Regions from separate parts of the Homo sapiens genome. Here all the other regions are reported to be linked to region 3. Evidence: microRNA targets listed by miRTarBase, many of them from high-throughput screens and not tested one by one. Region 3 holds a microRNA gene; each other region holds the end of a gene's coding sequence.
Evidence for each region. Region 3 holds the annotated microRNA hsa-miR-32-5p (UAUUGCACAUUACUAAGUUGCA, at 2,228-2,249, shown strand). A microRNA usually pairs through its seed, bases 2 to 8, with sites in the 3' UTR of a target mRNA and lowers its output. Matches are read on the target gene's strand: a 7mer-m8 pairs with bases 2 to 8, a 7mer-A1 pairs with bases 2 to 7 and ends in A, and an 8mer does both.

Region 1 (3,000 bases), not on the chromosome of region 3:
AGCATGGTGAGGCCCAGGTGAAGATCTGGAGGCGCTCCTATGATGTCCCACCACCTCCGATGGAGCCCGACCATCCTTTCTACAGCAACATCAGTAAGGATCGCAGGTATGCAGACCTCACAGAAGATCAGCTACCCTCCTATGAGAGTCCGAAGGATACTATTGCCAGAGCTCTGCCCTTCTGGAATGAAGAAATAGTTCCCCAGATCAAGGAGGGGAAACGTGTACTGATTGCAGCCCATGGCAACAGCCTCCAGGGCATTGCCAAGCATGTGGAGGGTCTCTCTGAAGAGGCTATCATGGAGCTGAACCTGCCGACTGGTATTCCCATCGTCTATGAATTGGACAAGAACTTGAAGCCTATCAAGCCCATGCAGTTTCTGGGGGATGAAGAGACGGTGTGCAAAGCCATAGAAGCTGTGGCTGCCCAGGGCAAGGCCAAGAAGTGAAGGCCAGCGGGGAGGATACTGTCCCCAGGAGCACCCTCCCTGCTGGTCTTGTCCCTCTGCCCCTCCCACCTGCACATGTCACACTGACCACATCTGTAGACATCTTGAGTTGTAGCTGCAGATGGGGACCAGTGGCTCCCATTTTCATTTTAGCCATTTTGTCGCCTGCACCCACTCCCTTCATACAATCTAGTCAGAATAGCAGTTCTAGAGCACAGGTTCTCAGTCTAAGCTGTGGAAAAGCTCCCCTTATCCAACAGAGTTTAAAAGTAGTGACTTGGGTTTTTGTGAGTGCTTTGTTTACTAAGGACTTTGGGGAGGAACATGCTAAGCCACGACCAATGAGGAGAAGCAACAGAGCCTGTCTGTCCCCATGAGCAGAGTCTGTCCTCTGCTCTTCTGCAGTCAGGCCACTGCCTGGGGGCTCTAGTCATTCCAGTGGAAGATGAATGTAATCTGCATGGTGATGTGACAACTGTTTCCTCCTTGACCCCAGAGGATCTGGCTCTAGGTTGGGATCAATCCTGAATTTCGTTATGTGTTATATTTACTTTTATTAAAAAAGTATAGTATATATTAATAATACAAAACAATAACCCTTCTGGGGTTTCTTGTGGCGGTTGAAATAGTCCCACATGTGGTCATCAGAAAATAAGCCATTCCTCATACCAATATAGGATCAGCTCCTTGACCTCTGAGGGGCAGGAGTGCTTCCTGGTGTGTGTATTAGAATCCCTTCCTGCCTTGTTTCATGGCAGTGAAATGCCTCTTGGTCCTGTCCAAGTGTGTCTTTCACTGATTTCTGAATCATGTTCTAGTTGCTTGACCCTGCCACATGGGCCCAGTGTTCATCTGAGCATAACTGTACTAAATCCTTTTACCAGATCAGTATAATAAAGGAGTGATGTGCAATTAAAAAAAAAAAGTATTACAACATCATTTTAGTTTTGGTGAGCTCAGAGAAACTTAAGCAGAAAATGCTGAACCATGCCCGCTGCTACTAACAAAGCAAGATGATTAATGGACTCTTGTAACTTCTCCAACTAATTTCTGTGGAGCTTTGAACAATTAGACCACCCAGTCTATGGTATTATGTTATGGAAGCCTGAACTAAGACATATGCATTCTTTTTTAAATTGGGATATAATTCACATGCTATAAAATTCAGCCTTTTAACCTACAGAATGGGAGAAAACATTTTGCAATCTACCCATCTGACAAAGGTCTAATATCCAGAATCTACAAGGAACTTAAACAATTTACAAGAAAAAAACAACCCCATCAAAAAGTGGGCAAAGGATATGAATAGACATTTCTCAAAAGAAGACATTTATGCGGCCAACAAACATATGAAAAAAAGCTCAACATCACAGATCATCAGAGAAATGCAAATCAAAACCACAATGAGATACCATCTCACACCAGTCAGAATAGCAATTATTAAAAACTCAGGAAACAATAGATGCTGGTGAGGCTGTGGGGAAATAGGAACGCTTTTACACTGTTGGTGGGAATGTGAATTAGTTCAACTATTGTGGAAGACAGTATGGCGATTCCTCGAGGATCTAGAACCAGAAATACCATTTGACCCAGCAACCCCATTACTGGGTACATACCCAGAGGAATATAAATCATTCTACTATAAAGACACATGCACACGTATGTTTACTGCAGCACTATTTACAATAGCAAAGACTTGGAACCAACCCAAATGCCCATCAATGATAGACTGGAGAAAGAAAATGTGGTACATATACACCATGGAATACTATGCAGCCATACAAAGGAATGAGATCATGTCCTTTGCAGGGATATGAATGAAGCTGGAAACCATCATCCTCAGCAGACTAACACAGGAACAGAGAACCAAATGCTGCATGTTCTTGTTCATAAATGGGAGTTGAACAATGAGAACACATGGACACAGGGAGGGGAACATCACACACCGGAGCCTGCTGGGGGGTGAGGGGTGAGGGGAGGAAACTTAAAGGATGGGTCAATAGATGCAGCAAACCACCATAGCACACATGTACCTACGTAACAAACCTGCACGTTCTGCACATCTATCCTGGTTTTTTTTAGAAGAAATGAAAAAAATTCAGCCTTTTAAGGTATCCAGTTCAGTACTTTTTAGTACATTCACAAGGATGTGCAACCATAATGACTATGTAGTTGCAAAACATTTTCATTACTCCAAAAAGAAATCCCATGTCCATTAGCAACACTCCCCATTTCCTCTCTACTCACAGCCCCTGGCAAACACTAATTTTATTTCCTATCTCTACGGATTTGCCTATACGGCCATTTCATATAAATTGATTCATTCAATATGTGTCCTTGTGTGTCTGGATTCTTTCACTTAGCATAATGTTTTCAAGGTACATTGATGTGTAAAATGTATCGGTATTCCATTCTTTTCACTTTCTTGATGGTGTCCATTGAATCACAAAAGCTTTTAATTTGTGAAGTCCAATTTATCTTTTTTCTTTTGTGTTTTTTGTGTCATATCTAAGAAACCATTGCCACATTCAAACTTACGAATATTTACTGC
Region 2 (3,000 bases), not on the chromosome of region 3:
ATGTCCAAACTACAGAAACATCCCTCAACTTGGAATCTACCAGTTCCTGATTTTAAAGATGGCAAAAGAACGGAAACTATAACCCTGCATGCTGTGTGGTTTGCATTGTTAACCCAAGTTTGCTTGTCTGTTTCCTAATTCACACAGAGCGTCAGAAGCCATGATGCATGTAGTGTGTGTGTACTGCAGCTGGAGTGGGCCCCAGACCAGGTATTTATAGACACCATGTTAAGCCTTCCATCCAGTTGTCATCTGTGATCTGACAGTCTGTATCCGCAGCAGTTTGGGAAGTTAGCATTTGTCATTCACCATTTCACCTTGTTCAATCTGGTTACAACTAGCCTATATGCATTTGTATTTTGGCATGCATACATGGATATGTAACATAAACTCCTGTTTAAAAATGGATTCGTTATTAGAACCATCCAACAGGGAGAAAATCCCAGTTAAAACAGTGTCTATTATATCTACCCCATCTTGGCTACTATAAATATCACATCAAGAATATTGGCCTCACAACACTTTGTTGTTGGAGATAACTATGCTTTCATGGGTTTCATAAGTGCCTTTCCTCTGAAAAACTGAAAGCTGTTCTTTTACATTACTGCATACAACTACCTGGAGTTATAGAGGGTTAGAAATTTTAATTTTGTTGAAGAAGAAATGGAAACTTAGGCCAGAGGACTTGTCAGGGGTGACTCTGAACAACAGGAACTAAGACTTTGCTTTTCCTTCTGTCTCTGGCCTGACAGATTTTCAGGAAGCACTCTGCTTCCATTTCCTCTGATGTAAATAATGGTAAACATCAGCTCGAATACATTGGCTGACTTACTAAGAGGAGGAAAGATGGTCTTTTAAACCAGCATCATAAGACTTTGTAGGAGTTTGCAAGCTGGTTGGAATTAGATACATAGCATTTAGTTTCTCTTCTTTCTTTCCTTTTTCTTTTCCTTGTAAGGATAGGTTAAAAGCAGGCATAGTTGAATTATTCTTAATATCCACTGTCCTCATCCTCTTCTCCTGTCATTCTGTAAACTGACCTAGTCCTCCCCTACGTTTAGGACTTAGGCTAGTGAAACTGACCTTCTCAGCTACAAGAGGACTATATGCTACTTTTTTAGTACAAAATTCATTGAGGGTGTGTTCACCTTGACCTCACTTGTTTATAACTAACACACAAATACCAGAAGGCCCTTACCATACCTCTTTATGTTGCTTACATGGATATTTCACTACAGTGCATTGTTTCTGTTAACATTAGTTCAAAATTCAACCTCTTCCAGAGTCAGCCTTAGTTTTAAATAAAACTAATAACTGTTAGACATCTGGTGGTATGAAAATAAAAAAACTAATAACTGTGTTTCTAGACTCTAATGGGTATAGCCTAAACTGAGATAAGTGCAGTTTTCCTTTTTACTCCTAAAGTGTAAGTAAGGTAAGATTGTTTCATGGGAAGTCAATAGCTTCCTGAAACAATGCTTTGTCTTCTCATGCTGTTAACCAGTAGTTTATTAGAATGATTTAAAGCCTTTTGAATATAACTGCTTTGCTGCTTTTTAAGATCAAGCCCTCTTGTTGGATGTTAACATTTAGTACTGAGCATTTGAGTTGCATCTGTCCTAATAATAGATTGTATTTTGAAGTCATTTTTGTTACTGACCTTTTGATTTTTATTTTTTATTATTATTATTTTTTATTTTGACTGAGTTTCACTCTGTCACCCAGGCTGGAGTGCAGTGGTGCAGTCTTGGCTCACTGCAACCTCTCCCTCCTGGGTTCAAGCAATTCTCCCACCTCAGCCTACCTAGTAGCTGGGATTACAGGCACCCACCACCACGCCTGGCTAATTTTTGTATTTTTAGTAGAGATGAGGTTTCACCACGTTGGCCAGGCTGGTCTCGAACTCCTGACCTCAGGTGATCCACCTGCCTCGGCCTCCCAAAGTGCTGGGATTACAGGCATGAGCCACTGTGCCCAGCCCTTTTTGATTTTTAATTAAAGATCTTACAATGGTCGGGTGCGGTGGCTCTTGCCTGTAATCCAAGCACTTTGGGAGGCTGAGGCGGGCGGATCACCTGAGGTCAAGAGTTTGAGACCACCCTGACCAACGTGGAGAAACCTCATCTCTACTAAAAATGCAAAATTAGTCGGGTGTGTGGCGCATGCATGTAATCCCAGCTACTCTGAGGCAGGAGAATCGCTTGGACCCGGGAGGCGGAGGTTGCGGTGAGCTCAGATGGCGCCATTGTACTCCTGTCTGGGCAACAAGAGCAAAACACAGTCTTAAAAAAAAAAAAAAATTCTTACACTTACATGCGTAGAGGTCAATTTTTAACTGGATTGGTGGCAAAAGAAGAGCTGGAAATGATGTTTAATGATACTATGATGCTTACACTGAGCCGTCTTGTTTGGGTGGTCTAAGGTAGCAGTGAATCTAAATAGTCATTGCCAGTTGAAAAACTATTAATGAACCATCTCCCTCCACATTCCCCTTTCTTTAAAACATTTAAATATTCTTAACTTAGTTGCACACTATTGATGTGATAAAAACTTATAAGCCTTTTAAGTTTAGAGTTGTATTATTTGGTAGGATGATGATTGTGATTTAATCTGCTGATCATTAGTTTACTTTTGTTTTCTGAGTCAGATGCTCACCCAGTTTTACCATGATTTTTGGAAAGCTTGGCTAGAAATAAAATAGAACATTTGCTTCTCTGTCCCCAAGCATTATGTTATTTCTTATTTCTCTTTATAATTCCCTCTCTGTCCAGGTATACCTGGTTTAAGACTTCTCATTTGTAACCTCAGTGTTCACATTTGAAACAAGAAAAGTGCATTAACATGAGAATCATTCTGGTGCAAAGATTCTCAGGATTTGTAATATCCTTAAGAATCACCCAAGGAGCTTATTGAAAATGCACATTCCTGGATTTACTCTCAAGTATGGTACCCCAGGGTCTGCATACTTCACAAGCGTCCCTGGTGGTTTTAGGGCAAGTG
Region 3 (3,151 bases):
CTTTGGCTGGCATTTCTGTCTCCACATACTTTTAATAAATATTGTCTGGAACTAGTCTTCCACAGAAATCTTGATTTTTTTTTTTTTCTCTGATAATTGCACCTGATTGATCTTGGTATATTTTTTCACTGTGTTCATGTAATAGCTAGGGAGAATCCCATTTGATTGTTAGAAAACCTTCAGTTACATTCAAACAGGATGCATGCTCCTAAAATACAATGTCTGTAGAACTTTTGCTAAGTTCTCTCCCCTTTTCCTACTAGCAAGGCCTGGGTAAGATCTTCACCAATACCTTGTTTCCGCGATTGGCTGTCAAGTGGGATTAAAAAAAATGCTCTTAACACCTGTATAGTGTCCTCAGGTATCCACACAGGGGCCATCTATAAAGATTCCAGATTTGGGAGTATATTATCCAGTGTAACAGCAATTGGGGTGAAGCTGTTTCGAAGGAAGTACCAGCTATAGCTTCCCTCCTAAGTCCTATATGACCATTGACTATCATCTTTGCTGAATAAATGAAATGATGAAAATTCTAGCAATAGATAATCTTTTGTTTATCTAGGTGATATCTTTCTGACTCAGAAAAGCTTTTGCAAATGCTCTACCAAAAAGGAAGGCTAATCTTTTATCTTCCCAGTGGGGTAAAGCTATTTATTGTAGCAGCCATATCAAAGGCTGGTAGGAATTCTCCAGTCAGTGTGGCTTAAGCCAAGCTTTGCAGAAAAATATCTACCTTGTTCATAAAGAACTTCAAGAAAGATGATGCTTCCATTTTCCTCAAGTAATCTTCATTGTTACTGACTCTTATTCTTAGAAAAATGTTTCTATTTTCACATCACAGCTTTTGAATTTTCTCTTGTTCTGCTTTCTTACAGCAGACCATCCTCTAAATGTCTGTCACCTTTTTTCATACCAAATATGCCACCTTTTTTGTTTTAAACTTAATTCCTAGCTGTTGTGTTTGCCAGTCAGTGGTAAGTAAAGCTGTTAGTCACACCTAGGTTCAGCTGATTGAAAGCACATACTCTGTTACACCATGATGCCTTCTTTCAAGAGGAGCTGGTTAGGGAAGATCATGACTTATATTTGTGGACATAAGAGGGTGGCATTTAGAAATTCAGGTCTTTGGCTCAGGAGAGAATTTGAGATTACAAAGAGTGCTGTCATCTACAGCGATATGAGGAAATCAGTCTTTTACAAATTAGATTCGACTTCCCTTCTTGGGAGTGCATACACTAATTATGTATTATAACAGTAGCTTATGTCTTGGTTCCATAGTATACTGGCATTTAAAAACCATTTGTTTTATTATCACCTTATTTTAAATACAGAAAAAATTTTAACAACCTTTGGTACCAGAACTATAATCTAATGGTTCTCAGAATTGATAGATTTTTATGAGTCTGATAAATATGGTACAGACTAAAGAATGGGTTATGGCCTGAGACATTTTTCTAACCAAAGCTATATCAAGTTATGTAATTTTAAGGCTATAATTCAAGGTGTTTTTTTTGCAGTTTAAGTTCCTAGGGCTGTTTCTTTACTGGCTCAAATTCAAGACTTAAAATGTACAGATTTTACAGAGATTCCTCTGAAGAGCTTTCTCCTGTGGAGAAGATGGTAGTGAGTTCTCTTTCTAAGAGCTCCTGTTGGATTTTTCATCCTGAAGGTTTGTGTTGAAGAGGCAATATGTTTCTTCATGGAAAAAGATTTTGAGGGAAAAATAAGTGGTTATTTATAATTTATGAATGACTATGAAAATATTGTAATGTCCTCAAAGTGCAGTTTAGCCTACAAATATCAGTGATACCAACTTTTATAAGCATCAGTCATTAATCATCATCTATGTTGCAGCTAAGTGGAAATCATTACATTCATTTATATGATCTGTGAATAAGTCAAAAATGGAATTGAAATTGGGGGTTAATTGCATGACCAGACAGTGATAGTGTCTGTTCGTGAAGCTTTGCCTTCTGAAGTATGTGGTTTCTTTATGATCACTATCTCATTGAAGTTTTGAACCTTACTCATTATTTTGATTCTGAATAAGTATTCTTCTCAGTTGAATACATTTGCAATTGGGTTTTCATTTCATGAAGTTTTGAGTCAGTGGCATGCATCCTTTATCCCCAGACCATTTTCCTCTCTTCAGCAGCATGTTGTCTCCTGAATGTATACATCACACCCTTCTTCCCTGATGCTCCCATTCTGCTTGCTCTGGTGGAGATATTGCACATTACTAAGTTGCATGTTGTCACGGCCTCAATGCAATTTAGTGTGTGTGATATTTTCACATGAGTGCATGCACACGGGTATGGCTCTTGCTTGCTGGGATTACAGCTTTTCAGTGCCAGTGGGTGGGTGTCCTGATGAATTAGATAAGACAGTGTGTATGCCATGCGATTCTCATTTGGAAAGTGAACATGCTTCCCATCGGTACCTTCCAATTTTGGAGAATTAAAAGTATTTGGATTAAAAAAAGTCAGCAATGATCATTTAGTAAATCAGTGTTTCCATTTTTTACTTTGAGCAAATGAAATATTTATTACAAATTCTCATTGATTTAAGAGTATAAACAATATTTAAATGTATAAGGAAGAATGTAAAGCTGTAAGAAAATGTATTTTCATTTATTTGAAGAAATCTCTCCCAACACTGGAATAGAGAAGCAGAAATCTCTTATGCATATTTGGGGAAATTAAATTAACTGGAGTTCTTAAATAATAATCAAGACAGTAAAGGTATGCTTAACCTACCTGATGAAAGATTCATCTCATAAACTTAAGTTTCCAAGGTAAATTACCTTAAAAATGTGTCTTTTACTTTCTCATTGTGATGCTTCGAAAACTGCTAAATTCATTTTAGTGGGCTAATAATGGAACTAGTTTTGAAATACACGTTTACTATTTGCCTATGTAATTGAAACAACCCCTTGTTATTTTTTTAGTTAGCATTAGAGTAAGCATCCACAATCACTAGGCATTGTCAAGGACACAAAACCATGTATTACTGTATGAAAATATTGAATTAATATTTACTACTACCATAGCCTCCAGATGATCTATTGTGATGCTGTCATTGTATGTTTCTGTGTTTCACCACTGTTTTGGAGGGTGAGAATGGAAGAATTCCACGTAAGCAGCTCATCCCC

Region 1: miRTarBase lists PGAM4 as a target of hsa-miR-32-5p. Seed matches in the 3' UTR shown: 7mer-m8 at 1,356-1,362.
Region 2: the mRNA of DDI2 is a reported target of hsa-miR-32-5p. The part of its 3' UTR that is shown has no 7-base or 8-base seed match.

Annotation. Positions count from the first base shown.
Region 1 is chrX:77,966,323-77,969,322 of GRCh38, reverse strand. It overlaps PGAM4 (phosphoglycerate mutase family member 4), which reads left to right. Exons shown (of 1, transcript NM_001029891.3): 1 at 1-1,374. The coding sequence ends at 449. The region is part of intron 1 of ATP7A (ATPase copper transporting alpha); the gene reads right to left. Among named protein-coding and RNA genes, the nearest start is that of PGAM4, 1.8 kb to the left of the region's middle.
Region 2 is chr1:15,656,470-15,659,469 of GRCh38, forward strand. DDI2 (DDI proteasomal shuttling factor 2) reads left to right here. Exons shown (of 10, transcript NM_032341.5): 9 at 148-210. The coding sequence ends at 164. Among named protein-coding and RNA genes, the nearest start is that of RSC1A1, 1.7 kb to the right of the region's middle.
Region 3 is chr9:109,045,370-109,048,520 of GRCh38, reverse strand. MIR32 (microRNA 32) reads left to right here and starts at 2,223; the gene lies at 2,223-2,292. All of the region lies in intron 14 of TMEM245 (transmembrane protein 245), which reads left to right.